Regions from separate parts of the Homo sapiens genome. Here all the other regions are linked to region 3. Evidence: fine-mapped expression QTL. A gene starts in region 3. Each other region holds a variant in brackets. All regions are shown on one strand. Distances are between the middles of the regions.

Region 1 (8,108 bases), 25 kb before region 3:
TTGAATGCTTTGCTGCTTAGAAATTTCTTCTGCCAGATACCCTAAATCATCTCTCTCAAATTCAAAGTTCCACAAATCTCTAGGGCAGGGGCAAAATGTTGCCACTCTCTTTGCTAAAACATAACAAGAGTCATCTTTGCTCCAGTTCCCAAAAAGTTCCTCATCTCCATCTGAGACCACCTCAGCCTAAATTGTATTGTCCATATCACCATCAGCATTTTGGATAAAGCTATTCGACAAGTCTCTAGGAAGTTCCAAACTTTCCCACATTTTCCTGTTTTCTTCTGAGCCCTTCAAACTATTCCAATCTCTGCCTGTTAGCCAGTTCCAAAGTTGCTTTCACATATTCAGGTATCTTTTCAGCAATGCCCCACTCTACTGGTACCAAGTTACTGTATTAGTTCATTTTCATGCTGCTTGTAAAGACATACCCGAGTCTGGGAAGAAAAAGAGGTTTAATTGGACTTACAGTTCCATATGGCTGGGGAGGCTCAGAATCATGGTGGGAGGTTAAAAAGCACTTCTTACATGGTGGCAACAGGAGAAAATGAGGAAAAAGCAAAAGCGGAAACCCCTGATAAACCCATCAGATCTCGTGAGACTTACTATCACGAGAATAGCATGGGAAAGACCAGCCCCCATGATTCAATTACCTCCCCCTGGGTCCCTCCCACAACACGTGGGAATTCTGGGAGATACAATTCAAGTTGAGATTTGGGTGGGGACACAGCCAAACCATATCAATACCTAACTCTTCAATGTGCATGCACTGATGAACATCTGCAAGCATCAAGACCATCCAGGAAAACATGACCTCACCAAACTAACTAAAGCACTAGGGACCAATCCCAAAGAGACAGAAATATGTGAACTTTCAGACCGAATTCAAAAGGAACTCGGTTTTGAGGAAAGTCAAAGAAATTCAAAATAACACAGAAGGAATTCAGAATCTTTTCAGATAAATTTAACAAAGAGATTGAAACGATTAAGTAGAATCAAGCAGAAATTCTGGATTTGAAAAATGCAGTTGACATGCCGAAGGATGTTTCAGTCTCTTAACAGCAGAATTGATGAAGCAGAAGAAAGAATCAGTGAGCTTGAAGACAAGCTACTTGAAAATACATGGTCACAGACAAAAAAAAAAAAAAAAGAAAGAAAGAAAAGAATGAAGCATGCCTACAAGATCTAGAAAGTAGCATCAAAAGGGCAAATCTAAGAGTTATTGGCCTTAAGGCCGGGCATGGTGGCTCACGCCTGTCATCCCAGCACTTTGGGAGGCCGAGGTGGGTGGATGATGAGGTCAGGAGATCGAGACCATCCTGGCTAACACGGTGAAACCCCATCTCTACAAAAAATACAAAAAAATTGGCCAGGTGTGGTGGCACGTGCCTGTAGTCCCAGCTACTTAGGAGGCTGAGGCAGGAGAATCACTTGAACCCGGCAGGTGGAGGTTGCAGTGAGCCAAGATTGTGCCACTGCACTCCAACCTGGGTGACAGAGCAAGAGTCCGTCTCAAAAAAAAAGTTATTGGCCCTAAAGAGGAGGTAGGTAGAGAGAGAGATGAGGGTAGAAAGTTTATTCAAAAGGATAATAACAGCTTCCCAAACCTAGAGAAAGATATTAATATTCAAGTACAAGATGGTTATAGAACACCAAGCAGATTTAACCTAAAGAAGGCTACCTCAAGGCATTTAATAATGAAACTCCCAAAGGTCAAGGATAAGGAAGTCAGCCTACAAGCAAGAGAAAAGAAACAGTATACAATGACGCTTCAGTACGTCTCGCAGCAGACTTTGCAGTGGAAACCTTACAGGCCAGGAAAAAGAGTGACATGACACATTTCAAGTGCTGAAGGAAAAAACTTTTACTGTAGAATAATATAACCAGCAAAAATTTCCTTCAACTGTGAAGAAGAAATACTTTCCCAGACAAAAGCTGAAGGGTTTCATCAACACCAGACCTGTCCTACAAGAAATGCTAAAGGGAATTCTTCAATCTGAAAGAAAAAGACCTTAATGAGCAATAAGAAATTATCTGAAGCTGCAGAATTCACTGTTAATAGTAAACACACAGAAAAACACAAAATATTATAACACTGTAATTGTGGTGTGCAAACTCATATCTTAAGTAGAAAGACTAAATGATGGACAAGTCAAAAATGGCCAGGCACAGTGGCTCTTGCCTGTAATCCCAGCACTTTGGGAGGCCAAGGTAGGCAGGTTGCTTGAGCTCAAGAGTTCAAGACCAGCCTGGGCAACATAGTGAAACCCTGTCACTACAAAAAAATACAAAAAATTAGTTGAGTGTAGTGGCATGTTCCTGCACTTTCAGCTACTCAGGAGGCTGAGGTGGGAGTCACCACCCTGGAGGTCGAGGCTACAGCCAGCCTGGGCGTTAAGTGAGAGCCTATCTCAAAACAAAACAATAACTGCAACAACTGTTCAAGACAGAGTTCAGTAAGGTATAAATTAAAACAAAAACAAAATAAAAAGTAGAGGGAAGAAGTTAAAGTGTACAGATTTTTTATTTTTATTTCTCACACTATACTGATGTAAAAAGTGTAGCATTTTAATTAGTTTTCTCTTTGCTTGTTTATACAAGTGTTAAGTTGTCATCAGTTTAAAGAAATGGGTTATAAGATATTATTTGCAAGCTTCATGGTAACCTCAAATCAAAAAACATATGATTGATAACACAAACAATAAAAAGGAAGAAATTAAAACATACCACTAGAGAAAATCACCTCGGCTAGAAAGGAAGACAGGACAGAAGGAAAGAAGGAAGAGAAGACCACAAAACAACCAGAAAACAAGTCATTACTTATCAATAATAACATTGAATGTAAATGGACTAAATGCTCCAATCAAAAAGCATAGAGTGGTTGAATGGATAAAGAAAAAAAAAGACCCAATGATCTGTTGCCTACAAGAAACACACTTCACGTATAAAGACACTCATAGACAAAAGAAAGGGATGGAAAGAGATACTCCATGCAAATGGAAATCAAAAAAGAGCAGGAGTAGCTATACCTGTATCAGACAAAATAGACTTCAAGACAAAAACTGTAAAAAGAGGCCAGATTATTATATAATTATAGAGGAGTCAATTCAGGAAGAGGATATAACAATTATATATGCATCCAATACTGGAGCACCCAGATATATAAAGCAAACATTAATAGAGTTAAAGAGAGAGATAGACCCCAATATAATAATAGTGGGAGACTTCAACACCCCACTTTCAGCATTGGACAAATCATCCAGACAGAAAACAAAGTAACATTGGACTTAATCTGCACTGCAGACCAGATGGACCTAATAGATATTTATAGAACAATTCATGCAATGGCTGCAGAATATACATTCTTCTCCTCAGCACATAGATTATTCTCAAGCATAGACCATATGTTAGGCCACAAAACAAGTCTTAAAACATTTTAAAAAACTGAAATAATATCAAGTCTCCTCCCTGATCTCAATGGAATAAAACTGGAAATCGATAATGAGGAATTTTGGAAACTATACAAACACATGGAAATTAAACAGTATGTGTCTGAGTAACCAATGGGTCAGTGAGGAAATTAAGAAGGAAACTGAAAAAATTATTGAAACACATGATAATGGAAACACAGCATACCAAAACCTATGGAATACAGCAAAGCAGTGCTAAGAGGGAAGTTTATAGCTATAAGTACCTACATCAAAAAAGTAGAAAAACTGGCTGGGTGCAGTGGCTCACGCCTGTAATCCCAGCATTCTGGGAGGCTGAGGTGGGTGGATCACCTGAGGTCAGGAGTTCAAGACCAGCCTGGCCAACATGGTGAAACCCTGTCTCTA[C/T]TAAAAGTACAAAAGAAAAAAGCTGGGTGTGGTGGCACATGCCTGTAATCCCAGCTACTCAGGAGGCTGAGGCAGGAGAATTGCTTGAACCCAGGAGGCAGAGGATGCAGCGAGCCAGTATTGCACCACTGTACTCTAGCCTGGGTGACAGAGCAAGACTCCATCTCAAAAAAAAAAAAAAAAGAAAAAATAGAGAAACTTCAAATAAACAACCTAACAATATATCTTAAAGATTTAGCAAAGCAAGAGCAAACCAAACTTAAGATTAGTAGAAGAAATAATAAAGAGCAGAGCAGAAATAAATGTAATTGAAATAAAGAAAACAATGCAAAAGTTCAACAGAACAATTTTTTAAAAAATAAAATCCTTTCGCCAGATTAAGGAAAAGAGAAGACCCAAATAAATCAGAGATGAAAAAGGAGACATTACAACTGATATCACAGAAATTCAAAGGATCATTGGAGCAACTATATGACAAGAAATTGGAAAACCCAGAAGAAATGGATAAGTTCCTAGACACATACAACCTACCAAGATTGAACCATAAGTAATACCCCACAAGCACAGGCAACCAAAGCAAAAATAGACAAATGGAGTCACATCAAGTTAAAAAGCTTCTGCACAGCAAAGGAAACAAAGTGAAGAGACAACCCACAGACTGGGAGAAAATATTTGCAAACTACTCATCAGAATATATAAGGAGCTCAAACAGCTCTGTATGGAAAAAATCTAATACAATTAAAAAATGGGCAAGAGATCTGAACAGACATTTCTCAAAGTAAGTCATACAAATGGGAAACAGGTATATGAAAAGGTGCTAAATATGGTCATCAGAGAAATGCATATGAAAACTGCAATGAGATGCTTTCTCACCCCAGTTAAAATGGCTTTTATTCAAAAGACAGGCAATAACAAATGCTGGAGAGGATGTGGAGAAAAGGGAACTCTTGTACACTGTTGGTGGAATATAAATTAGTACAACCACTATGGAGAGCAGTTTGGAGGTTCCTCAAAAAACTGAAAATAGAGGGCCGGGCACAGTGGCTCACACCTGTAATGTCAGCACTTTGGGAGGCTGAGGAGGGTGGATCGCTTCAGCTCAGGTGTTTAGACCAGCCTGGGAAATATGGCAAAGCCCCATCTCTACAAAAATACAAAAATAAAAAATTAGCCAGGCATGATTGTATATGCCTATAGTCCCAACTACTCGGGAGACTAAGGATGGGGGATTGCTTGAGCCCAAGAGGTAGAGGCTATGGTGAGCCGAGAGTGTGCCACTGCTCTCCAGCCTAGGTGACAGAGCAAGACCATGTCTCAAAAAAAAAAAAAAAAAAAAAAAAAAAAACCCACTAAAAATAGAGCTACAATATGATCCAGCAACCCACTCCTAGGCTTATACCCAAAAGAAAAATCAGTATATTGAAGCAGTATCTGCACTCCCATGTTTATTGTAGCACTGTTCACAGTAGCCAAGTTCTGGAAACAACCTAAGTGTCCATCAGCAGATGGATGGATAAAGAAAATGTGGTACATATACACAATGGAGTACTATTCAGCCATAAAAAGAATGAGATCCTTTCATTTGCAGCAACATGGATGGAATTGGAGGTCATTATGTTAAGTGAAATAAGCCAGGCACAGAAAGACAAACTTCACATGTTCTCACTTATTGGTGGGAGCTAAAAGTTAAAACAATCGAACTCATGGACATAGAGAGGTTACCAGAGGCTGGCAACAGTAGTCAGGAGAGAGGGCAGTGGGGATGGTTAATGGGTACAGAAGAATAAAAAGAATGAATAAGACCTAGTATTTGACAGCACAACAGGATGACTGTAGTCAACAATTGTACATTTTACAATAACCCAAAGAGTATAATTGGATCGTTTGTCACAACAACAACAAAGAAGGATAAATATGTGTGGTGATGGATACCCTATTTACACTGATGTGATTATTATGCATTGTATGCCTGTATCAAAATATCTTGTGTACTCCATAAATTTATACACCTGTGTACCCACAATTTTATTAAAAAATTTCAGACCAGCTTCCCCTTGATGAGTCAGCAGATGACCTTTTCTCTCCTCGCCTTCCCCACTGTGATGTGTGTATAGTTGGGGGCACCATTAGCTAGGGGCATTTCTGTTGTCCAGGTCCTCTGGAAAGTAGATGCCAAGGTAGGATTAAATACATGAGGGACTTTATTAAGGGAAATGCCTCTGTGAGAGAAAACAGAAGAGCTGGAAAAGGCTGAGAGCCATCAGACTGCAATGCAGGTCAGACCTCAATGAGGAAAGAGGGTAGGAAGGATGGGCAGAAGCATCCTGGCTGGGTGCCATCTGAGGAGAATTTGGCAAGACTTTTATCAGAGGAGTCCCATGCCTCCCAGGAACAGGGCCACCTTCATATTTCTACTGGACATTGGAGAGGAGCAGCACAATGCCTGGGAAATGTGGCCTTAGCGTAAATGTGGGTGACAGATTTCAGAGAGTGGCAGCTGGGGCTCTTGGTCAGTTATGCTCCCGTGATTGGAGACAGATTCTCATGGCTGCACAGGTACTTTCTGGAGGTCTCTTTGTTGCTGCCTTTAGACTGTTAGAACTGAAAAATCGGGAGGTGAAGTTTGCTTAGCAGCACTTACAATCTAAGGATCTGACCCAAGTCCATCTGCATCTCTCCCTCTTCGACAGACAGATGGTATGTCGGAAAGTGTTGAGTGTGGTAAGCTGGAGTTTCTATTCTGGCTCTGCTTTGGGTTATACAACCTCTCTGAACCTCAGTTTCCTCATCTCTATAATGTGGGTTCCAGAATGCCTAACTCTATAGAGCTAAGACCATATGCTGTTTATAGAAATGCTTATTATGAAACCTGGCACCAAATAGCTCCTTGAAAAACATAAGCCCCTCTTCCTTCGTTCCGTCTTTATGCCTCTGGTCCCCCTCCCTCTTAGAGTATAGGATGAGGAGAAAGCTAGCTTTGCTCCATCGTGGAATCCTCTGTTAGACAAGTCCCTACATCCATATTGTTACTATGTGCCATTGACACCATGTCTGTTGCCCACTGGAGAACTGGCTGCAGCCGGTGTTTAATTTGGCCACCTTCCTTCCACATCTCAGCACAGAGCTGGGTTGTCAGTGTCAGTGCAGGAAAGAGCACATTCATTTCGACCCAACTGAATTAGCCAGGCCAGTCGGCAGCCAGGAAGTCATGTGCTGCTTTCCCGAACCAAATATAAATTATTTTTAGATTATTCATTGTTTGGTATTGTCCATACCACAGCTCCCTCCTATTAGAGCACATCAGAGAAAATTGGCTGCAGCCAATTAATGGATATTTAGCAAACCATTTGCCAGTCCTGGGCCTCTGTGTTCTCATTTGTGAGAAGAGTGGTTGAAATTGACCCATAATTCTCAACCCTGGCGGCACATTGAAATCACCTGGGGAGCTTTTAAAAATCCTGATTCCCAAGCCACACCTCAGACCAATTACATCAGAATCTCTAGAGTGGGCCCCAGGCATCAGTATTTTTTAAAGCTCTCCAGGTGATTCCAGTGTGCAGCCCAGTTTTGGAACCAGTGAAGGAGGATTTCAAAGCTTCCTTCCATCTCTAATTCCAGGGATGATGATCTTGAAAAGGGTATAGTCTACTTCTAATTTAACTCATTGAAATAGGAGTTACAAGAATGAGTATTCCAGCAATGTTATAATTTTATATTCTCAAGTTCCCTGTTCTTAATCATGTTTCTGTTTGGCATCTTGGTCACTCACTGTTTAGATTCATAAATAATACTTTTTTTCTATATAAATATTTGTTTACTTCATGTGTCTGCCATTCTTTGTTTTCACTTATGTTGTGGCAGGTGTACATTTCACAGAATTGGTGAACTTTTCTTTATTACTCTATAATAGAAATTAGCTCCTGAACTCCATTTCCACTTAGTATTTAAGTGTACAGCTCGGTGAATTTTTCATATGTATGTGGCCATGTAACCACCACCCAGATCAAGGTATAGGGCATTGCCAATAATCCAGAAGGCTCCCTCATGCCCCCTCCAGCCAACCCATGCATCCCCCACAGCCATTACTCTTCTGACTTCTATCAGTAGAGGTTAAAACTCAAGTCTCTTTTGAGTAAGTCTTTAATTTAGGCTCATTCCTCTCCCTTGTTTTCTTCTTCTCTGGGGACGATCTAATTTTCAGGGGCCTTATTACCATCCTGCCATCAGGGGAGAGTTCTTCTTCAAGAATGACTGATTCTTTAATCTGTGTAT
Region 2 (8,108 bases), 66 kb before region 3:
AAGTGATTCTCCTGCGTCAGCCTCCCAAGTAGCTGGGATTACAGGCCCCTGCCACCACGCCCGGCTAATTTTTGTATTTTTAGTAGAGAAGAGGTTTCACCATGCTGGCCAGGCTGGTCTCAAACTCCTGACCTCAGGTGATCCACCTGCCTTGGCTTCCCAAAGTGCTGGGATTACAGGCATGAGCCACCGCACCCAGCTGCCATAAACACTTTTAACATTTTAGAGTTCCTAATATGTGTGTGTATGTGTGAACGTATGTGTAGTTCTATTTACTTTAAGTGAAGAATTATTTTTTTAAAGATCCAAGCTCAGTGTGTAAAATGTGGCTAATTTTTCACCTTGTTTTGCATAGGTAGGAAGATATTTGAAATTCTTATATTCATTTAGTTTGCTTTATATATAAACTATTTAGTACTTATTCTCTGATCTTGCCCTTAACTCCGTCTCTGGCACTTTACCAGTGAGATCAGGTTGAGGGGGGTTAGGTTCTAATCAATTTGGAACATATTTAATCTTTCTAGTGGAAAGGACATTGTTTTCTTTCTTGCCCTGTGTTTCTTATAGTTTCTTCTTTACTTTCCTTTTGATCTTTCTCTTCTTTATCTACTTTAAGGTGTTATATTTTTTAAGTACCTTAAGGTTTCCCATATCTTTTTTTTTTCCACATTGAAGGATAAGAATTTCATTGCTGAGGAATGTCACTTATTTTGCAATTTCTAAATAGATTCACTTAGGAAAGTGTAAAATTTTTCTTCCCCTTATCCCAAGAATAAGAAAGGCATAAAAATTTATTTTATGTCAATATACCTGGAAGCTTAGCGTCAGCATCCAAAAGGGGAAGGGGAAGAAGGGAAGGAAAACATTTACTATACATTTTGTCTTTTTCTGATATTAAGGAAAGTTCTCTCATATCAGGTTGCTTCTTAGATATTTTTTAATCTACAATTTCTTTCTTTTTTTTTGAGACAGAGTCTTGCTCTGTTGCCCAGGCTGGGGTGCAGTGGCACAATCTCGGCTCACTGTAACCTCTGCTTCCCAGGTTCAAGCAATTCTTCTACCTCAGCCTCCCAAGTAGCTGGGATTACAGGCGCCCACCAGCACGCCTGGCTAATTTTTGTATTTTTTGTAGAGCTGGGGTTTCACCATGTTGGCCATGCTGGTCTTGAACTCCTGATTTCAAGTGATCCACCCACCTTGGCCTCCCAAAGTGCTGGATTACAAGGGGTGAGCCACCTCACCCAGCCTTAATCTACAGTTTCTAAGAAAAAAATATAATATTCTCTCCCTTTAACATTTATTATTTGTTGTGAATTAGACACTGTGTTTAGTGTTTTACATGATGATCTAATTTGTAATTATCTTGTTAAAAAAATGATTGTTTCAGGCCCTTGCTTGTGATTGGTGGTTCCTCTGAAAGAAACCAAGAAACAATGGGAGCTTTCCAGGAGTTTCCTCAGGTATCCAACTTTAAGATTTTGGTTTTTTTTATTTTTAATTTTTGAAACAGGATCTTGCTTTGTTGTTGAGGCTGCAGTGCAGTGGTGCCATCTCAGCTCACTGCAGTCTTGACCTCCTGACCTCAAGCAATCTTCCCACCTCAGCCTCCCAAGCAGCTGGGACTACAGGTTCACACCACCATGCCTGGCTAATTTTTGAGTTTTTTGTAGAGACGAGGTTTCACCATGTTGCCCAGGCTGGTCTTGAACTCTTGAGCTCAAGCGATCCACCTGCCTCAGCTTTCCAAAGTGCTGGGATTACAAGCATGAGCCACCGCACTTGGCCTGCAACTCTTAAGATTTTAGTAACACAATACATACACACCATTAAGAGGTAGAGAGAAGATATAAAAAAGCCTCCTGTTTGCAAAATAAAATAAATAAATTAGAAGTACCTGAAGTAACTTAAAGGTAATTATCTTGAGCTACTATAAGACAACTTCAGGGTGGATATTAAGGGTGAGCTTAGGCCCTGCTTAGAAACAAGCTTTCAAGAAATACACCTTTGTGACAGGATTTTAAGCTCTGAAAATAGGCTCTTAAAGGAGTCAAGAAGATGTAGGAATAAAAATGATTTTGGACTATGCCTCCCAGACTTTAGGGAAATAAGAGGAAAAAACTTACTCAAAATGATTATCAGTAGACTCTGGACAAGTATATTTTTATTTTAGAAGGAGGAAAGAAAGCATGTCAAAATTAAAAGAAACTTGAAAGAATATGTCAACAAAATGCTACAGTTTTAAGAATAAAGCTGGACACGTGGTTCGTAACTGTATTCCTAGCTACTCAGCTACTAGGCTGAGGAGGGAGAATTGCTGGAGCCCAAATGTTTGAGACCAAACATATGTCTGTACAACATATTCAGGTCTTATCTCTGTCTTTCTTTCTTTCTTTTTTTTTTCTTTTTTGAGACAGGATATGGCTGTGTTGCCCAATCTGCAGTGCAGTGGCGCAGTCTTGGCTCACTGCAGCCTTTACCTCCTAGGCTTAAGCCATCCTCCCACCTCAGCCTCCTAAGTGGCTGGGACTATAGGCACACGCCACCATGCCCAGATAATTTTTGTACTTTTTGCAGAGACAGTGTTTTGCCATGGTGCCCAGGCTGGTCTTGAACTCCTGACCTCAAGTGATCCACCACCTTGGCCTCCCAAAGTACTGGGATTACAGGCGTGAGCCACCACACCCATCCAAGATACCGTGTCTTTAGAAAAAACAGTTGTTGGAAACAAATAGCTGAAAGTGAATGATTGACACTTAAGATATAAATATATTTGAGCATTTACAGGACAAAGTTAAAATCATTAGACAGCCGGGCATGGTGGCTCACCCCTGTAATCACAGCACTTTGGGAGCCCCAAGCGTGTAGATCACCTGAGGTCAGGAGTTTGAGACCAGCCTGGCCAACATGGTGAAACTCTGTCTCTACTAAAAATACAAAAATTAGCTGGGCTTGGTGGTGGGTGCCCGTAATCCTCGCTACTTGGGAGGCTGAGGCAGGAGAATCACTTGAACCCAGGAGGCAGAGGTTACAGTGAGCCGAGATCGTACCACTGTACTCCAGTCTGGGTGACAAGAGTGAAACTCCATCTCAAAAATAAATACATAAATAAAATCATTAGACAAAGTCTATTTGTAAATCAGAAATCATTACTGAGAACTTCAAAAAATAAAATTTCATATATGATAAACTAAAATACTGAACTCTAGTATAAGTTAATGCAAAAGTTATATTTTTATACTCTTAGAAGGGAATCGAAGTTTTATTTAGTTAATAGTAGACGATAACAGTTATTTAAAAGATGCTTATGTGTTTGGAAAATAAGTAGAGCAGATTAAGTTAATTAAAAGGAAATCTAAAGTTACTGCAGAAACTATATACGTGAAAAAGAAAACAGGATAAATGTCCACTACATATTTTTTTCCTGAAATGGAAAATAATAGTTTATTAGATCAAATTTAAAAACAGAAGAGAAAGAATCCAAGTATCTGGTTTTTGTGGAAGTCCTTAAAACTAAAGGGCATGAACATAGACTGAAAATCGGAGGGTGATCTTAATTTTGTCATGCCTGTGGGACTATCAGCTTTTCATAGATTTCATACTAAAACATCAAGAGAAACAGTTTCTATATAATGCCTCAAGATATATAGATCTGAGGCATTTTCCTGAAATGGAAAATAATAGTTTATTAGATCAAATTTAAAAACAGAAGAGAAAGAATCCAAGTATCTGGTTTTTGTGGAAGTCCTTAAAACTAAAGGGCATGAACATAGACTGAAAATCGGAGGGTGATCTTAATTTTGTCATGCCTGTGGGACTATCAGCTTTTCATAGATTTCATACTAAAA[C/T]ATCAAGAGAAACAGTTTCTATATAATGCCTCAAGATATATTAAACAGTGAAAAATTATCACTACTGAATTCATATATTCGAAACACCATAGCAAGAAAGTATATAAAAGGAACACTGGCAGAAATGTAAGAATAGATTATTATTATAACAAAATCTAACAGATGAAGTTTTATATTCTTATCTGTGAAATTGCTGGATCCAAAGATATGCTGATTTAAATTTTTTGTAGATTTTAACTTCCTTTCCCATTTATAGTCTCACCAGCAGTTTATAGAAGTGCCTATTTTCCTGTGTTGTGTTAGATGGTGGGTATTATCAGACTTTTGCATCTTTGCCAAAAGATTTTGCATCTTTGGTATGATACGCTTCCTGAATCATACCAAGGCAAAACTTTGTACTTTGAATAGGCTTTTAAGGGACAGTCTAGGCAATATATTTTCTCCATCTTGCCTCTAAACATAAAAGAAATTAATGACTTAACATTTTGTCTTCTTTCAGGAGAGTAACATGATTGTGAGCTGAATTTTAAGTGATTTTCATTTTCCATGTAGGTTGAAGCTTGTAGATTATATACCAAGTTCTCTGCCCGCCCAAGCAGCATAGAAGCTATTCCTTTTGTTATTGAAAAGGTACAGTATTTAATAACAAGCTCTCCAAGTCAACTGATTTTTCTCAGTTGCTCATACTTACTGTTATTTTTATTCTCAAAAGAATGAGTGACAATTAGGAACATACCCAGGCAGTTAAAAATGGCATTGTTAGAAAGCTATTTACATTTTAGTGTTCACTGTCATTACATTTAATTATAGAGAGGTAAAATAAGTTATTTTTGGAAAAAGTTTCTCCTGTGTTTTAGTTTTTAAAATTACCTTTTTAATTATACAAAAGTAAAGAGAAAGGTTTATAATGAACCCTTGAGTACCTTTTCTCTTGTGCTTTTGCAAAAGATTATTTTTGAAAATTGGGATTAAACCAAAACCCTCTAAGACCCTCCGTTAGTTAATTAATACAGCATACAGGTTGATTATTCCTTACCTGAAATGCTTTTCAGAAGTGTTTCTGACTGCAGATTTTTTCAGATTTTAGAATATTTGCATATATATAATGAGACATCTTGGGGATGTGACCCAAGTCTAAATATGAAATTCATTTATTTTTCATATGTACCTTATACACATAGTCTGATGATTATTTTTCCCTTGGGGATGCTGAATAAACTGTTTAGACACCTGCATTTTGACTGTGAGCTGTCACATGAGGTCAGATATGGAATTTTCCACCTGTATCATCTTCTTGGCACACACTAAGTTTCACATTTTGGAAGATTTTGGATTTTTGGATTACAGATACTCAACCTGTATTATAAATTATAATCAGCATTTATACGTGAAATTACATTTTAGCTGTTTCAAAACCAGGAGTTACAGAAACCATTTGATACGTGTAACAGCATCACAGTTTCTGAAAACACTGCCAGATTACTAAGATTAGGAAGCAGATGAAAGTACATATTACAGTGCAAAAACTTGGCAGGCAGAGCCGGGTGAATAATTTCCCAAGCTAAAGTGTAATAGAACATGAATTTTAAAGCCCTAAATGAATACTTTCTTATCTCTCTCCCTTTTAAACAAAAAATCTTTAAAAATGTAGTCAATAGAGGACATTTCGATTTTCATCATAATTATTTTTTTCTCCACAAGGATGTCCAGAAAAATGAAAAGTGTTCATTTTCCAGTTTTAAATTATCTTTGAGTAGAATATGATAAGACTGAGATTTTACAAATCTTTTCTTCTACTTGTAATGAACGTAGGCAGTGAGAAGCAGTATCTATGGTCGTCCAGGTGCTTGCTATGTTGACATACCAGCAGATTTTGTGAACCTTCAGGTGAATGTGAATTCTATAAAGTGAGTAATAGTTATGCTGGAATTCTTTCTTCAATGTACATGTATTATCATAATGCCTACCTTTTTAGAAGAATTTACCCAGCAGTTTATAAGTTAATTTCCATTTGTCTTAACTTGATTATTTAGTAATTAAACTGAATCCTAGCCAAAGGGTTAATTTTCTTAATTAAAATGATATTAGTAGTTATTTATGGATTTAATTACTAAACCAAATACTTAGAACTTCCTGAACTCCTCGTTGAAAATATTCCTCCAGTAACCATAAATATACATCCCTCGTTAATGTAATATGGGTCCTTGAGAATCTTTATAATGTAAGCCAAGAGGTTGGGTGATTATTAAAAAGTATTAGGACTCAGGATAAAAAACATCTAGCTGTCTCTCTCTGTGGTTAACAAATATTCCAGTATAGAGGTTTCTATGATTTCTCATATTCTCATATTTCTTAAATAAACACTAAGTGAAAAGAAGTACAAAAAGCATTTTTCACTGGTATCTAAATCATCCCCTGATAGAGATAGGTACTTAGGGTTAAAGCATCATGGGTACTGTTTAGTGCGTTTCTGCTGTTGTGGACCAAATGGTTCTCTAGTGACTACAGAGAGTCAGTGGGTCTTACTGTATACTCTGTGTACCAAAGAGTGATTTTTTTTTCAATTTGAGACTGAGTCTCTCCCTGTTGCCCGGGCTGGAGTGCAGTGGCACTATCTCAGCTCACTGCAACCTCTGCCTCCTGGGTTCAAGCGATTCTCCTGCCTCAGCCTCCCAAGTAGCTGGGATTACAGGCGCCCGCCACCATGCTTGGCTAATTTTTGTATTTTTAGTAGAGACAGGGTTCCATCATGTTGGCCAGGCTGGTCTCGAACTCCTGACCTTGTGATCCACCAACCTCGGCCTCACAAAGTGCTGGGATTACAGGCATGAGCCACCGTGCCCAGCCAGGAGTGATTTTTTATTTCGGAGAGTCAGATAAAAAAGACACTTGTTTATTCTGCCTAATACCTGAACATGATAATCAAAATACTACTAAGGGGAGGAGGGTAAGCTCAGGTAAGTTAACTCTGTAAGCCTTCTTCTAAATTTTATACAGATTGTCCTTTTTTATTATATGTCTAAATATTTTGACAATATGTCTAAATTTTATACAGTATAATTTATATTAATTAGAATAAATGAAATAGCACAGGACTTGGTGTCCAGAAATACTTAACTGTGACAGTTTGAATATTTCTTTTACTAATGCATATTATGATACTAAAATATTAACACCCAGTGAGTGGAACTGTAGTGGGGCTGGGTGCGGTGGCTTACACCTGTAATCTCAGCACTTTGGGAGGCCGAGGTGGGTGGATCACCTGAGGTAGGAGTTTGAGACCAACCTGGCCAACATAGTGAAACCCCATCTCTACGAAAAATACAAAAATTAGCCAGGCTTGGTGGCATGTGCCTGTAGTCCCAGCTACTCAGGAGGCTGAGGCAGGAGAATCGCTTGAACTTGGGAGATGGAGGTTGCAGTGAGCCAAGTTCGCACCGCTGCACTTAAGCCTGGGTGACAGAGTAAGACTCTGTCTCCACAAAAGAAAAAAAAAAAGAAAAGAAAAAAAAAAAAGAGAAATGTGGTAAGGTGTTTAAAAGCATGGACTTTGGAGACAGAATGACTAGTTCAGTCCTGTCTCTGCCACGTGCCATCTGGAGATCTTGGACAAGTTACTTTCTCTGAGTCTTTTTTTCCTCAGTGGTGAAATGGAGATGATGTTAATACCTAACCTCATTGTTTTGACAGTTAAATGAGAATAAATGGCACATAGCAAATATTAGATTTTATTATGTTTTTACTGTTAGGACAGCTACTGCTGCTACTACAGTACAAAGCCATTAACTCAGATTTTCTGTTAATGAATTGGCCATTTCACTGGTTATTAGATGATATCAGGGAATAACTGTTAATTTACTAGATGTGATAATGATGTGATAGTTGAATATAGGAGAAGGTCCTTATTCACAGCTGCATGGAGAAATTTTTAAGGGTGAAGTGTCTTGATGCCTATTTACTTTAAAATAGTTCATGAAAAATAAATGCATGTTTATGTGTGTATATATGAAACAAATGTGGTAAAATGATATTAAGTTGTTAGATCTACATGGGGGTGTATGGAGATTTATTGTACTATTTTTTCTACCTTTCTATATATTTGAAATTTTCACAATAAAAAGATCATAGTTGGCCTCTTTTAATTAATAGGGCTCTTTTTTTCCAGGTACATGGAACGCTGCATGTCACCTCCTATTAGCATGGCAGAAACCTCTGCTGTGTGCACGGCGGCTTCTGTTATTAGGAATGCCAAACAACCCCTTC
Region 3 (8,108 bases):
CATAACATTTTGAATGGATGTCCCAGGATTTATTCCACCAATGTTTCATTCATGGACAGTTAGGCTGTTTCCAACTTGAGGCAACAATGCACACCCTTGCACCTAAACCACTGGGTAGTGAATGAGTATTTCTGAGAACTTCTGGGTCAGACGGCATGTGCATTTTAAGTTTAATGGGGCCAAAAGATTGTTTTCCAGTGTACAGTCCTGCCTACAAGGTCTGAGAGGGAAGACTCTGACTTTGAATGGCTTTATTGGTGTGAGCTTTTCTCAAATCTCAAATAGTTTCCTTCTGGACAAATCTAATAGTCTATGTTATTAGATTCTGGAAACATCAGAGCCCTTCCAGGAGGATTTGAAGAAAGATGATAATTTCTGTCTTGGTCAGTTAGGGTAATCTTATAAGAAATAGGTTCATAAAATATAAGATACCTAAGGAAATGGAAATTTACTAAAAATTGTTTAATAAGTATTGGGGCCTTATAAATAACTCTGTGTTGGGGCCTCCTCAAAGGGTAGAGGCTCCTGTCGTAACTTTAGATCAGCAGTGACTCATTCTCCAGTGACTTGAATTATAAATTTAGCCTCTCTGTCTGCGGGTCCTAATTCAAGGTGGCCATCCATAGTCCCTCTCACACTCTCACCATACTCACCAAAGCCCTCCCTTGTATCAGGCGCAGGCCACCCAGCTGTATGTGCAGAGGCTCCAAGGGGTGCTGGGGAAATGCAAGTTGTGCAGAAAGCTGGAGCATAAAGTTATGCTACTTTTGTACGTTCTTCTTTTTTCATCCTACCCAGTGGTGTGATTTGATCAAAGTAACTTACATTGTTGAGGATCTGTTAGGTGACAAGGACTGTCCTGGGGGCCTTGAGAGTACATAGAGCTGTGGGATAGTCCCCTATCTTTAGGGATGTTAATGCCAGCTAAATAGCAACACAAGGTGGTGTTCAAAAACAATAGCAGCAGGTGTCACCGGTAGGACGTATTGACAGAATTTGTTCCAAGGGTATGGTCAGTGGTGAATTCTTTGTGCTGAGAGAAGGAAGAAGTCATACTGGCTTTGCAGAGGAGGAATCTGAGCTAGATAGTAAAAATTCATATTCTGACACCAAGTTACTCAAAAGATACCTTCCTCCCAGGTAGACTGTACCTTCTCCAAGCCACTGGAAGCTGGCTGCTGGGGCTCCAGGAGTTAACAAGAGTGAGCCTGAGAATGTCCTGATTGAGTTTGGCCAGCAATCACAGCTCCTTCTTGTAAAAATTTTGGGAGCAGCTAAATGGGGGTACCCTCTCTTTAATCTGTCCTATAAATTTTGAATGTAGTTCAGGTATATTTTTCATGCTTTCAAAAGCTTTCCTTATCAACTCTGTATCAGTTAGCTATTGCTGATGAGCAAGTCATCCTAAAACTTACTGGTTTGAAACAATAGCCGTTTTATTTGCTCATGACTTCGTAATCTGGGCTGGGCAGTTCTTTCGAGGGTCTCACTTGGGGTCACTCCTGTGGCTGGCATCATCTGAGACCAGGACAGGGCTAGATGTTCCAAAATGGCCTCACTCGCCTGTTGATGCTGCATCTGGGATAGTCAGAACAGCTGGAGGCTGGCTGCTTCCCCCTCCATGTGGCCTCTTCAATAGTCCAGACTTTTTAAAGTGGCAGCTGATTTTCAAGAAAAGGCAAAAGCAGGAGCTGCCAGGCCTTTTAAGGCCTAGGCCAGGAGATGGCACAGTGTCCCTTTAGCCACATTCTATTGGTCAAAGTAAGTCACAGAGCCACCTCAGATTTAAGGGAGGGGAACTAGCCCTGCTTTTTGCTGGGAAGAGTGTCATGCACACACTGGGTTGGGAGGACTTTTGGAGGCCATCTTTGCACCCAGGCTACCATGGCTCCCTTGGGTCTCCTTTGTGCTGTTCCTATGTGCAAGTTCTAATCCGTGTAGGATTCATCCCCATTACCTCACTTAACTTTCCAACAAACCTTTAAAGGGAACATTGTCTCCATTGTATGGATGAGAAAACTGAGGCTTAGAGAGGTGAGCTTGTCCACTGCCACTCAGAGCTGAGAGTCAAGCCCAAGTGTGGTGCTACAGCTGTAAAATATCACTTTATACCACGCCCTGACCCAACTCCACCTTCCCCATAATGAGCACAGGGGCAGGATGCCCACCCCAGCATCCAGTAACTAGCAGACTGTTTCTGAGTTAACTCCTATGAGGCATGTAATATGTAAATTAAAGCAAAATGAACAACTCTGTGAATTATTATTTTGTTTTAGTCATCTAATCATCTCTATAACAGGCTTTTATAAACTCATAAAAGGTATTAAGAATGTGATAATTTTTATTTGAATAATTTTGTCTAGCCAAAGATTAAGTTAGTGATGTTATTTTTCTGAATATAGTTTGATAAAAATCATTCACTTTTCTATACTTTTACTGTTTTCATTTATTTTGCCTTGCATTGAATCAAAAGGTTGCAGCTTTTGGAGAGAGAAACACTTTTTCACAGAGAAAGCTGTTTGGAAATATAAACTACTTCCTTCCTCCTTTTTATTGGATGATTAAAGAAAAAAATTAAAAGTTAACTTTACATTTGTTACACAATGGGTAAAAATGTCACAGGCTGACAGTGGAGGGGTTTTTCTCCATGAAATTCAGTTTGAATCAGGAGAGTTGTTTCTGCCCAGTTCCAAGGAGGTAGATGGTGGCACATAACCAATTAGGAATCTCTCTGCCCTTGAGGACTGCCTCCAGTGAACATCTGAGACTTGGCTGCCTTCTCATCACCTCTTCACTAGCCACTTACCTCAGTCTCCAAAAAAGAAAATTTTGACATCTTAATTTTAATGTGGGCATTTGATATGGAGCTTGAGATAAATATAACTCTCTGTAGCATGGAGACAGTTTAATGGGAAATGGTTGGCATTCTTTCTTGGTAAAGGCATGGGAGACAGGAGAGGTGGGGGAGGGAGAGAGAGGGAGGGGGTGAGGAGGAGGGAGAGGGAAAGAGAAAGAGGGAAAGACACACACACACACAGACACACACACACACGCACACACACACACACAAACACACGCGCACGCAAACAGCAGTGAGGAAGAGAAAAGCAGAGATAAGCAAGGCTCCGCAGCAGCCTCCTTTCTAACTTGACCCTCGCCAGACCCTGGCCAGCATGGTTGTCCTGAATCCAATGACTTTGGGAATTTATCTTCAGCTTTTCTTCCTCTCTATCGTGTCTCAGCCGACTTTCATCAACAGCGTTCTTCCAATCTCAGCAGGTAAATGATGGCCACAACTTTCCTCTCTTCCATCTGTCAGGGGACAGGGGGAGGAAGGAAGATTGTTTTGCAATGTGTCCTGATGTTTTTGCCATTCAACTGTTGGTGGAGGGAGGTTGGAAGGAAGACGGCCACCCCAGCAGCTTCCTGTCACCCGAGCTTGTCTCGGAAGCCCCTTCTGTCCTTGTTCCAACCGGCTCCTACCTGGCTGCTCAAAGCAGAGACACTTTGAAAAATGGTTTCTGCCTCCCCTATTCTCCCCATTTGCTGCATGATTTCATCTTGGTCAGGAATTTGGGAGAGCTTAAAAGAGACAGAGGTGTGCAAGTAATAGAGAAGTGAGTCTCAGATGTTTCTATAAATACATCTCTGACCTCTTCGAAGGGGGCTTGCCTCACAGGGGCTGTTGTGGAGTAAACAAACCTCTTTCCAGACCCAGATAGCATCCATGGCCACAATAGTCCCTCGAAGGGAAAATGCAGGTGGCAGGGGCCGGTGGGGTGGGGGGTGAACAGCGGCGGGGCAGTTGCAGCCTCAGGACTAGGTTTTCCCTTTCTCCAGACCTGTCTTCCTGGGTGCGACTTCCCTTCAGCCTCAGACAAGGCAGCTGGAGGTCCTGAGAGAAGTGAGCTTTCCAGGGAGAAGTGGAGGGGGTTCCACAGTGACAGCCAGGTCTGGAGCTGAGTGTGTCTGCCGGGTATGAGGCTGGGAGATTTGGGGAAGGGGCTGTGTCTGCCAGCCTGCAACCTTTTCTGAGGTCAGCAGCCTGTTGCCCTTGTCTTGTCTGACCCAGAGCAGGGGAAGTATTCGGTTACTAGTATGGCCTATTTAAACCTTTCTGAGGAAACTCAAATGTTTCCGGAGGGCTTGAAGGAGGCAGGCAGACCCTCACAGCCCCCCTCAATTCACCTCAGTGACCCCTGACTCTCCCCAGCAAAGTTTTAGTTATGCCTCCAACATGAGTCTCATAAATACTTCAACTGAGACAGAAATTTCACTATCGCTGCCTTTGCTGGAAACACAGGGAGGGCCAGAAATGCCAGGCTCTCAGAGAGGGCACATCTCTGAATCCAGCTCCCAACTGCTGTCCATTGATAAAAACAGCTCATCAGCAAGTTGTGTAGCCAACGTTTGTGGGCCATGAGGGAGTGACTCAGAGACTGGTGTGAGGCTAATTATAAAAGTGTGAGAAACAGAAGGAGGTGGGGGCAGATTTGTGGAGAATTCAGGAGGGTGGGCAGGAAAGGTGAGTGGTGGTGTCACCGTGGGTGTGTGCCCACATGCCCCTGCAAATTCAAGTTAAGAGCATCAAGCTTCTTCTAGGAGTGAGTAGTCATTATTCATTCCCCAGTTCAAGGGAGAAGCTTGAGAGTTAATTTGGCCTAATTTGGTGGTTCTTAATCATGTTTGGGTCATGGATTCCTTTGAGAATCTGCTGAAGGTTAGGACTTAAGGAAACTCAGTTTTCTGGTTCTAGCCCTGCCTCTGATGAGCTCCCTGACTTCTGAGAGACAGTGGCCTTACACTATAAGCACCATGTGGCCAGGGCATGTGTCTCTCTTGTACTTTACTGTTTTCCCAGGGTCAGAACAGTGCCTGGCACATAGTAATCAATAAATATTTGATGAATGAATGAATAAAAGCTTCTCATCTGCAAACTGGGGTTTACCATCATTTTGTATTACTTAATTTAAATAGCACCAAAGTGGTTAAGGAGTTCAGAAAACTAGAGAGAAAAGAACCTCTGGTTTTCTTTTGAACTCTTTGCCTTGGAGAGCACCCTGGCACAACATAGATATCTCTTAGGTAAGCTTTTTGCAGACTGTACCAATCAGGGCAACAGCAGGATAAAGAAGCAACTCAGGTGGTTCAGATGAAAAGATCTGAATGAAGGGATCACTTTGAGAGGTGTGGGCGGGGTTAAGGGAACCAACAAGGAATGCTGAGGCACCTAGAGATTAGCAACTGCAATATGCCTTTACCACCCTGTGCTTGAAAAGGCAAGAGGGGCAAATAGGAAAATGGATCCCAGGCAGATTTGGAGCCTTAGAGAAGGGGCCATTAAGCAAGAGCATTGGTCATGGAAGGCCCTAAAGCAGGGAGAAAGTGAAGGAGAAGTACACCATCTTCTCTCTCCTCCCATCCAAGCACCTTTTGGCAGCGCCTCTCATTGGCCAACCCAACTTGAAGCCAGAGGGCAGAGCCTGGAGGTCAGGGACTGGAACACTGAGGGCAGAGAGCCAAGGGGAGGGTTGGGATGGAGAACAACCAGTGCGCACATCCACAGGCACTTCTGGCTGGGAATGTGGTCATTAGACATTAGGGAAAACAATGGAATAGACCTAGCGGGAATCACTAAGGTAACCAGCTCAGTATCACAAAGATATGTTTTCTCCGGTGGTCACTTGGCTTTGCCCCCCTAATTTAGTCACCATGGCTTTATGATAGCACAGTTCAGAAATAAACTTAAGCTTTAAAAAAATGGAAGCTGTTCCTTGTAATCCTTTGGAAATATTTTCCAACAGTTTGATATAAAATATTCTATATTCAGAAGCTTATAGACTCTTAATTCTTCTGAAGATAGGCTGTGTATACACAGAAAATAAGGGCAACCAGGAAAATCTTTTCATTCTATGCATTATAACTTAGTGAGTGCCTACTGTGTGCCTGGCACTCTAATGTGTGCTTCAAGGGACACGGAGACAAGTAGGATGTGGCCTCTGCTCTGAGGGATTCCATGATCACCTGCTTTTGAAACACAGGTGGCGTGTGGTAAATGCCCCGGAAAGGGGTTGTGATGGAGGAAGAGCTCTCATGGGCCTGTAAGCCAGTACTTACCTTCATAGATAATCCACTCCTTCACTGTCTTCAAGAAAGACTATTCCAGCAGTGCCATGTGCAGCACCAGCTATCTGGATCAGAGGTTCATTACCTGGCAACCTCCTCTGCTGGGTCCCAGAGGAGAACCAGGAAGGAGCAAAAAACATCAGAGGCCAGAACTGATGATAGAAATGCCATCGCTAAAGCACATAATATTTGATACACACAAAACTATTTCAGGCCTTTATTCTAAGCCTATTAACTCTTACTTTGGGCACCACTCTAATAGACATAGATAGTCCGTGACTTGAAAGCTGGTGATTATATATAGCATATTAAATTGGGGAGGGAGGAGTTGCTGCTTAAGCTAGACACAATGACGGATGATAAGAATGATTACAAGAAAAACAATAAAGAATTAGGAAATGGGCCTGAGATTTCAAAAAGAATAGTAGGCCAGGCGCGGTGGCTCACGCCTGTAATCCCAGCACTTTGGGAGGCTGAGGTGGGTGGATCACCTGAGGTCAGGAGTTCGAGACCAGCCTGACCAACATGGAGAAAACCCTGTCTCTACTAAAAATACAAATTTATCTGGATGTGGTGGTGCATGCCTGTAATCCCAGCTACTCAGGAGGCTGAGGCGGGAGAATTGCTTGAACCTGGGAGGCGGAGGTAGCAGTGAGCTGAGATCGCGCCATTGCACTCCAACCTGGGTAACAAGAGTGAAACTTCGTTTAAAAAAACAAACAAAACATAGTAGACTAGAGCTACCTCTAGAGCCTCTGCTCTGTCTGTAACCCCTGAAGGCGTCATTGACTACAGTACATTAACTGGTTTTCATTATGATGAACATGAATGGACCAGTGATGACTGGATTGTGCCTACTTTATCTTGCTTAAGAAGGTAGATAAATGCCATTTATATATTAGAATGATTTCTATTGAACATGGCAATTATTAAAAATGCCAAGATTCCCACGTTTGGTGTATTGCGTTAACCATTGGTGGGTAATAAACCACCGTGACACTTGGTAGATCAAAACAACAACCATTTATTGTTGAAGTTCATGTGTTTGTGGGTAAACTGAGGGTCAGCTAATCTAGCTTGGGTTTGGCTGGCCCTGGCTGGACTCACTTATGGGTCTGTGGATTGACTTGGCTCCAGTATCCACCCACAGTGGTAGCTCAGTAGTAGTACAATTTCCAGAATGTGGAGGCACAGACACAAAGACAATGATATTTACCGGAGGGCAGGCCTTCCACACAGTTTAATTTGTGTAATTCTCGCAGCACTCCTGAATGGGGGCAGCACCACTTCCCCTTTCAGATGAGGAAATGGCAGCTCAGAAAGGTTAAGTGACTTGCCCAAGGTCATGCAGCTGTTATGTGGGAGAGCTGGAGACTGAAATCCTGCTTCTTTAAGTCCAGGGCTTTCACCAGTATATACCAAATCTCCTTATGGTTTTGGATAAATAGTGATATTGGCCTTTAAAGTCCTGTAGGCTACCCTCCTATCCTCTGGAAACTCTCCTCTGGATTCTTTTTTGTTTGTTTTTTCGAGACAGGGTCTCGCTCTGTTGCCCAGGCTGGAGTGCAGTGGTGCGATCTCGGCTCACTGCAACCCTCCGCCTTCCAGGTTCAAGCGATTGTCATACCTCTGCCTCTTGAGTAGCTAGGAGTACAGGCACGTGCCACCAAGCCTGACAAATTTTTGTATTTTTAGTAGAGATGGGGTTTTGCCATGTTGGCCAGGCTGGTCTCGAACTCCTGACCTCAAGTGATCCGCTGGCCTTGACCTCCCAAAGTGCTGGGATTACAGCCACCACGCCTGGCCTGGATTCTTTATTTTCCATTCCCTCCTGCTTTTTCCTCAGTATATCAATGCCCAAAGCTCTAGCAAAAGATTGAATATTGCTTTATATTAAAGTGTGCATGACTTGCCAGGGTACTGATTTATCTCTGCTTTGATGGTTCTTGCATTTTAATGGAGGTTAAGGATCTAAGCTAAAC
Region 4 (8,108 bases), 59 kb after region 3:
AATAAAATAAAAAAATAAAAAGTTGGCTGGGCGCGGTGGGTCACGCCTGTAATCCCAGCACTTTGGGAGGCCGAGGTGGGCAGATCACGAGATCAGGAGATTGAGACCATCCTGGCTAACACGGTGAAACCCCATCTCTACTAAAAATACAAAAAATTAGCCGGGCGTGGTGGCGGGCGCCTATAGTCCCAGCTACTTGGGAGGCTGAGGCAGGAGAACGGCATGAACCTGGGAGGCGGAGCTTGCAGTGAGTCGAGATCGCGCAACTGCACTCCAGCCTGGGTGACAGAGCGAGACTCCATCTCAAAATAAATAAATAAATAAATAAATAAATAAATAAATAAATAAATAAATCAAAATATAAAGTCTGTTATTGAGAAGGGCATAGATACACTGCTTCCTTGTATGTTGTTTTCAAGACGGAGCCTTGCTCTGTCGCCCAGGTTGGAGTGCAGTGGTGCGATCTTGGCTCACTGCAACCTCCACCTCCCGGGTTCAAGTGATTCCCCTGCCTCAGCCTCCTGAGTAGATGGGATTACAGGTGCCTTCCACCACGCCTGGCTAATTCTTGTATTTTTAGTAGAGATGGGGTTTCACCATTTTGTTCAGGCTGGTCTGGAACTCCGGACCTCGTGATCCGCCCACCTCGGCCTCCCAAAGTGCTGGGAATACAGGCGTGAGCCACCACACCCAGCTGCTGCTTCCTCTTTTACCTCATTCAATTTTATTAGCTAAGCCCTTTATTTCGTTCCCTTGTCAGCTCATGGTAGGGGCTTTCACAGCACATCAACTGTATAAAGACAGTATCAAGAAGATCATTTGTTGACTGCAACATTTTCTGTCTTCAGTTATACAAAAGGAATCCAAACAATTTTTATTCCAACTTTTTTCTTAAGAAAATGAAGACATTTACAATTCCACAGTGTATTCCCCCTCCTCCTGTGTTTATGGAACTATATTTGCAACCACATCATGGGATGGGCAAGAAATGTCATATTTTGTTAGATCCTTTAAACTAAGTTAAATCTGGCTCTGAGAGTCCAACCTACTAGGATGCCAAATAAATTAATTCAGGCATTATTAGGATTTTCACTACTCCTCCAACAACCACAAATAGGTTGGGCAAAGATCCTGGTGAATTATGGCAGAAAAATGTCAGGGAAGGTCCCTCCAACCTTTGGTCTACTCCATTCACCTCTGAAATAGAGTAGAAATAGAAATAGACTTGTTGTCCAAGTCCCTGTGGTCCACAGATACCTGGTGGCTGCTGTTCTCATGCCATACGTGGGTATCAGAACATTTTCAAGGCTGGGAGTCCTGGTCCCCACAGTTCAACTTTCCAAGGAGCACCCCACAACCATTCTTTCTGAGACCTGTCTCTTTCTCAGGATACAAGGGGTCCCTCTCCTGTCCATGTCTAGGGAGGTCTCTCCTCTTCCATCCCTGACCCCTCCTTCCTCATACTCCTCATATACCAGCACCCCAATTAGGAGCTTTGTCCTTCAGAGAACAGAAGGCAGAAAGAAAAGTTTGTTTCCAATAGTACCTGCTTTTAGCAAGGGCAAGAAAGCACAAACTCTTGCTACCTCCTTGAAATAGGGAGAGGAGGAAGGAAATACTGGGAGAACAAACACTGATTAGTATGGGTAATAACTTATGTTTGCTGCGCCTGTTTCCATGTTGTTAGGGGAATCAGATTTGAGATGCAGCCCAGGCCATGTGCCCACACTCCATAATTCATTTCTGGAATTGGCTGGATGATCTGAATGGGGGTCCTTTCAACTAGTCCTCTTCCTCCTTGGTTCTGGAAGGCATGATGTCCCCCTGGAGCCCCATAACTATGAGCTACCAACCGCAGAGACTGAGAGCTTGGCCTGAGTTGTGCCTTCAGAAGGGACTCTCTTGGCCCCTGGGGTACCTAGGGGCTCACAAAACTGAGGAGTAGGCCAGGCGCGGTGGCTCACACCTGTAATCCCAGCACTTTGGAAGGCCGAGGTGGGCAGATCATGAGGTCAGGAGATCGAGACCATCCTGGCTAACACAGTGAAACCCCATCTCTACTAAAAATACAAAAAATTAGCCGGGCGTAGTGGCGGGCGCCTGTAGTCCCAGCTACATGGGAGGCTGAGGCAGGAGAATGGCATGAACCCGGGAGGCGGAGCTTGCAGTAAGCCAAGATCGAGTCACTGCACTCCAGCCTGGGTGACAGAGCAAGACTCCATCTCAAAAAAAACAAAAAACAAAAAACAACAAAAACAACAAAAAAAAACAAAACCAAAACCAAAAAAAACTGAGGAGTAGTCCAGGGGCAATGGGATTGGTGGATGTGGGATGTGTAGGAGATCCTTAGCGGACTGGGATCTTAATGGTCTCACTGTGTTTATCTCTTTGTAAAGGCCAGCCCTCACCTGACTTGTCTGGTTCCCTCCTGGGGCTAGGGGATGGATGAGAAGGGCTAGGCTGGAGCTGTCAGCAGCTTCTTGGTGCCTGCTGTTTCTCTTGTCTTGTCTGTCTTCGGTGTATTGCAATCCTGTCCTCTTAGCAGGCCCCGCAGAGTCATACTTTTTCTCCCTGGCCTTCCAGCTCCCTCTCTTCCACCCAGTATGCCCACCTCCCTCTCCCTTGACTACCCCAGCCTCTGCCCAATCACGCCCTGCCCTCTACCCTTCAGAGGACACCTTGCCGTCTGTGGAGCTGGAGCTATTCCTATGGTCTCTCTGGGTCCACATGACCTTACATGGCACTCCTCTCACCTTCTGTCCATCCAACAAAATTCTCTGTTCCTTTGAAGCTCTCTTTTCAGTAAGGCCTTCCTTGGCCCCTAACAGGATGGATCACCCTCCCCTGAGCCCTGGTCATTGCCTCTCTGTTATGGCCTCTCCATTGGTAACGTTTCTGCAGATGTGTTTCATCTTCCCACTAGATCCTTGAGGGCGAGGTAGGCGGCTGAGTCAGCTTCACATCCCCAGTGGCACCTGGTATGTGGGTGGACAGGGCTGCTTCCTGCAGGGGCTCCCAGGCAGGGGTTCTGTGGGTTCACAGTTCATCTCCTTAGGAGCCAAGCAGGGTGGGACCATCTCTTTGGATTGATGCCCCCGCCCCCCATTCCGTCCTTTGAGCCACTTCCTTTCTGAGGAGGCTTCCTGAGTGAGCGGGCTGAAGAAGGTAAAGAGAAGATGGGGCAATAAATAATCCTGCTCTTTGGAAAATATTGGAGGGGTGGGGAGAGAGGGCAAGGAAGGAGTTAAAAAGAGATATTCAGCCGGGCGCGGTGGCTTACGCCTGTAATCCTAGCACTTGGGGAGGCTGAGGTGGACGGATCACTTGAGGTCAGAAGTTTGAGACCAGCCTGGCCAACATGGTGAAACCCCCATCTCTACTAAAAATACAAAAATTAGCCGGGCATGGTAGCGGGCACCTGTAATCCCAGCTACTCAGGAGGCTGAGACAGGAGAATCACTTGAACCCGGGAGGCGGAGGTTACAGTGAGCCGAGATCTCGCTACTGCACTCCCGCCTGGGCGACAGAGTAAGACTCCATCTCAAAAATAAATAAATAAATAAATAAATAAATAAATAAATAAATAAATAAGTTATCCCTGTGCCTGGGACCAGTTGGATAATCATCCAGAGTTGGACTAGGCCCCCCAAATTGGTTCCTGACACTACCTTTGACAGTCTGATGAAAGTCCCAAACCCATTCTCGGGGGGGAAAAAACTGTATATACCTACATCCAAGGTTTTGCACCCTGTTTCCCAGGGTTCCAGAACCCCTGTCCCAGCGCCATCGTGAGATAGCCTTGGCCTCTGTAGACCACAGGTTAAAACTCCCCTGGTCTAGTCCTACCCTCCCCTTAGAGAAAAGAATCTTGAACCTCAAAGAGAAGTGATGCCTGCAAGGTCACAGCAGTGACTGGGGGCCACCCTGGTCCAGAATGGGTGAGTGTCAGCCAGGCGGCCCTAGAGGTTGTTGTGCTGGTTCCTCTGCCCTCTCCTAGATTCCCCTTTCCTGATCCTTTCCCACTGAGGCAGCCAATGGAAGCGGGAGCCTGCCTGGGAAAAGATGGAGAGCCAGGTCCTCTGGCTGCAGGGGGTGGCGATGAAACCCAGCTGAGACATGATCTCCCAGAGGTCAGGGTGGGGAAGTTCAGGTTGCTGAGTCCTTTAGTATAGCCTGGCAGAAAACAGGCAGGGGTAACAGATGCCCTGCAGCAACTGGGAGGAAGCTGCAGGGAAA[C/G]TGCAGTGGTGGCAGCAGGCTCCCTGCCACATCCTGTTGGGAGGTGACCTCGGTTTCTGGTGCCCAGCTCTGTGGGACCAGATGGTGCTGGGGGAGGTGGAAAGGGTGAGAGCTTTGTACTTATCTGAGTTAGAGGGTAAGAGGGGCTAAGAGGTCGGGGGGGGAATAAAGGCAAAATGCCTTTAGGATGTAATTTGCAATAATCAAATTACAAATTTGGCTGAGTCCTTCCTGTACCCAGACAGAGTATAAGTGAATCAACGTGGTACCTGGGAATTGCCAGCTTCCTGAGAGCATCAGTATTCTTGGACATTTGTCTTTTGAACAGCATAGTGTTAAGTAAAACATGAATTCAAATCTCAGCCTCACCATTCATCAGCAGCTAATGGGACAAACTCCTGACTGTCTCTCAGGCCATGGTTCTGGAGGAGTTGTTGGGGTCACAGAGCCTTCTGGAAGGCTGTTCCAATGCCACCCTCATATTCTTGGTCACAGAGCTTTTCCACTTCAATTTCCCCAAGTGCTTAATTACCCAGAATATTCCTAGCCTGGTGGATTCCCTGTCTCTCTGGGCTCTTCTGAAAATATCAGAACACAGACTGGAGCTCTTCCTACAGAATTATATTTGTATTTCTTGTTAGAACAAACAACCATAACTTAGGATAAGATATTGGCACAGTGCCCTTCCCCTCATGCTGTCAGCATTCTGATTGTACGAATACCTGTCAACTCGCTCAGGAAAGTTCAGTCTCCTCCGACTGCAGTGTTTTCCCTGGGGTCCTGGCCAGATCTCTCCCCTGGGGTCATTTTATTTCCTGCCCTTCTGGATCTGTGAACTGTGTTCCCAGCCCCTGGCTGCCCCAGATGTCATACTGCCTGACACCAATGACTGGCTGGCCTCCAAACCCACCCCTCGCTATTTTCCCAGAAGAAGGGATCCTTACCTATTTCTCTTCTCAGTCCCCATCTTTTTTTCTCTTTCCTCACTTCCTGTTAGATGGCTTTTGTTCTGGTGCTTTTCTGCCAGCCAGAATGTGACTTTTACCCTCTTCTGAAGACTTTTTCTCTCCAATTAGTCGGCATTCATTCATTCGATCATCAAACACTTTCCATGCCCCTACTTTGTGTAAGCCCTGGTGGATGAAAACAGGCACTAGCCCTGTCCTTGTGGAGCGACATTCTACTGGAGATCAACCTTGATGGAATAATCTCACAATATATAGAATCACAAAGAGAAGTGCTGTGAAGAAAGGCATAGGAAACCATGAAATTGTATCCCAGGTATACATGACAGAGTCTGAGGATTCAAAAAGTCTTCCTTCAAGAAGTGATGTTTGAACCCAGATCAGAAGGGAGTTGAGAGGCAGCTGGGGAGGGATGGAGGATGAAGGGAGGATGATCTGGCAGGGGAATGGCCCAGTTCTCAACCTTGGGGCAAATTGGAATCATCTTGAGAGCTTTTAAAAATATGGATGCCTAGCACATGTATACATATGTAACTAACCTGCACATTGTGCACATGTACCCTAAAACTTAAAGTATAATAATAATAATAATAATAAAATATGGGTGCCTGACCAGGCGCGGCAGCTCACACCTGTAATCCCAGCACTTTGGGAGGCCAAGGGAGATGGATCACTTGAGGTCAGGAGTTCGAGACCAGCCTGGCCAACAGAGTGAAACCCTGTCTCTACTAAAAACACAAAAATTAGCCAAACCTGATGGCACGTGCCTGTAGTCCCAGCTACTCAGGAGGTTGAGGCAGGAGAATCACTTGAACCTGAGAGGCGGAGGTTGCAGTGAGCTGAGATTACACCACTGCACTTCACCCTGGGCGACAGAGTGAGGCTCCGTCTCCAAAAAAAAAAAAAAAAAGGATGCCTTATGCTAAAGTGGTAAAAAAATTTTTTTTAATAAATAAATAAAAGTGTGGATGCTGCCTAGGTTCAGTTCAGTTTTCAGAAGTCTTGATGGAATTGGTCTGAGGTGTATCCTGGGTATCAGAGCCTTTAAAAACCAAGGTACTACCCTCACAGTTCTTCCACATTGCTAGGGAGTACACTTTCTGATCATATCTTTTCAAGACATGTCCTCACTTCTTCAGCACCAGGGGAGGGTAAATGGGCAGAGCATATACTAATGTTCTATTTTCTTCCAGAAGAAATGAAAGAAACCCACATCCAGAAATTCCTCTGTAAAGATCCTACATTGGCTGGGTATGGTGGCTCACGCCTGTAATCCCAGCACTTTGGGAGGCTGAGGTGGGCGGATTACTTGAGGTCAGGAGATCGAGACCAGCCTGGCCAACATGGCAAAACCCCGTCTCTACTAAAAATACAAAAATTAGCCTGGTGTGGTGGCACACACCCGTAATCCCAGCTACACAGGAGGCTGAGGCAGGAGACTCACTTGAACCTGGGAGGCAAAGGTTGTAGTGAGCCAAGATCGTGCCACTGCACTCCAGCCTGGGCAACAGAGCAAGACTCCATCTCAAAAAAAAAAAAAAATTCTATATATAAGAAAAACAAAAGTTTTTTAAAACAATAAAAGTTAACAGTCAATAATGTGTTTGTCGGCAAGAAGCCCTCTGTTAATAATGGTCTAAACAAATAAGACATTGTTTTTCTCCAATAAAGAAATCCAGAGGCAGGCAGTAGCTGGCTTTGATTCAGCCTCTGACTGTCACTGTCAGGGCCCCAGGCCCCATGAGCCTTTCGTCTTTCCTGCATGTTGGCTTATCTTCTCATGCTTGTGACTTCCTGGTTGCAACACGGCTGCTGCAACACCAGACATCTTGCCTGTCTTCAAGGCAGGAAGGAGGGGGAAACTATCGCCTACCAGCTATTTTTCTTACCTTAGCTCCTCCATGTCTTGGATCAAAAGCATCTCTTTGAACCTCTCCCTCAGGCATACCCTGAAATGCTGTGGACTTTAACCTTTTTTCTGTTGCAAAGGTCGCTCACATCTCCCTGGTTGTTTGGTCTTCTCTTCCTTGGCTCTAGTAACACAGCAGTCTGTTGCTTCCTAGGACAACTTATAATGGGACCCAAAGGGGAAAGAGGATTTCCCGGGCCTCCAGGAAGATGTCTTTGTGGACCCACTATGAATGTGAATAACCCTTCCTACGGGGAATCTGTGTATGGGCCCAGTTCCCCGCGAGTTCCTGTGGTAAGGCTTTCTGGGAGAAGTCTGGGGTGGTTATCCGTGAGGACCTCTCACCTGATCCTTATGGGGCTTTGTAAAATCCTTTCAGTAAAACTAACTTTTTTTCACGACTCTGAGTACACCCTCATTATAGGAAATTGGAAAATATGAGAAAATCAAGAGGAAAACCAAATTGTCCATTTGATTGTGAGTCCATTTTGGGGTATTTTCTTTGTCTTATTAAAATCTAACTTTTATATGGTTGAGATTATATTGTATAAAAATGTACTTTTGGCCGGGCATGGTGGCTTATGCCTGTAATCCCAGCACTTTGGGAGGCCAAGGTGGGTGGATTATAAGGTCAGGAGTTCGAGATCAGCCTGGCCGATACAGTGAAACCCCATCTCTACTAAAAAATATATTTAAAAAATTAGCCGGGCGCGGTGGTGCACGCCTGTTGTCTCAGCTACTTGGGAGGCTGAGGTGGGAGAATCGCTTGAACCCAGGAGGCGGAGATTGCAGTGAGCTGAGATAGCACCACTGCACTCCAGCCTGGGCAACAGAGCGAGACTCCGTCTCAAAAAAAGTTATACTTTGTTATCTTAGTTGAAATCCTGCCATGTTTCCACACTCTATAAATAACATTTTAAACTTTTTATTAGGGAAAATTTCAAATACATATAAAAGCAGAACAAATAGTGTAATGAACCCCTGTGTACCCTTCACCC

Evidence for each region. PIP is the estimated chance that this variant, and not a neighbour inherited with it, causes the effect.
Region 1: its variant is fine-mapped to the expression of COLQ in coronary artery (GTEx, PIP 0.93).
Region 2: its variant is fine-mapped to the expression of COLQ in lymphoblastoid cells (GTEx, PIP 0.94).
Region 4: its variant is fine-mapped to the expression of COLQ in whole blood (TOPMed, PIP above 0.99). The same link has a PIP of 0.9 or more in blood mononuclear cells.

What each region holds. Positions count from the first base shown.
Region 1 is chr3:15,541,704-15,549,811 of GRCh38, reverse strand. No RefSeq gene overlaps it. Among named protein-coding and RNA genes, the nearest start is that of COLQ, 24 kb to the right of the region's middle. The variant C/T (reference allele first, on the strand shown) is at 3,837.
Region 2 is chr3:15,582,892-15,590,999 of GRCh38, reverse strand. It overlaps HACL1 (2-hydroxyacyl-CoA lyase 1), which reads left to right. Exons shown (of 17, transcript NM_012260.4): 5 at 1,388-1,460; 6 at 4,398-4,475; 7 at 5,658-5,752; 8 at 8,011-8,108. Among named protein-coding and RNA genes, the nearest start is that of HACL1, 15 kb to the left of the region's middle. The variant C/T (reference allele first, on the strand shown) is at 3,846.
Region 3 is chr3:15,516,691-15,524,798 of GRCh38, reverse strand. COLQ (collagen like tail subunit of asymmetric acetylcholinesterase) reads left to right here and starts at 3,093. Exons shown (of 17, transcript NM_005677.4): 1 at 3,093-3,279. The coding sequence starts at 3,174.
Region 4 is chr3:15,457,482-15,465,589 of GRCh38, reverse strand. It overlaps COLQ (collagen like tail subunit of asymmetric acetylcholinesterase), which reads left to right. Exons shown (of 17, transcript NM_005677.4): 13 at 7,265-7,404. Among named protein-coding and RNA genes, the nearest start is that of EAF1, 34 kb to the right of the region's middle. The variant C/G (reference allele first, on the strand shown) is at 4,237.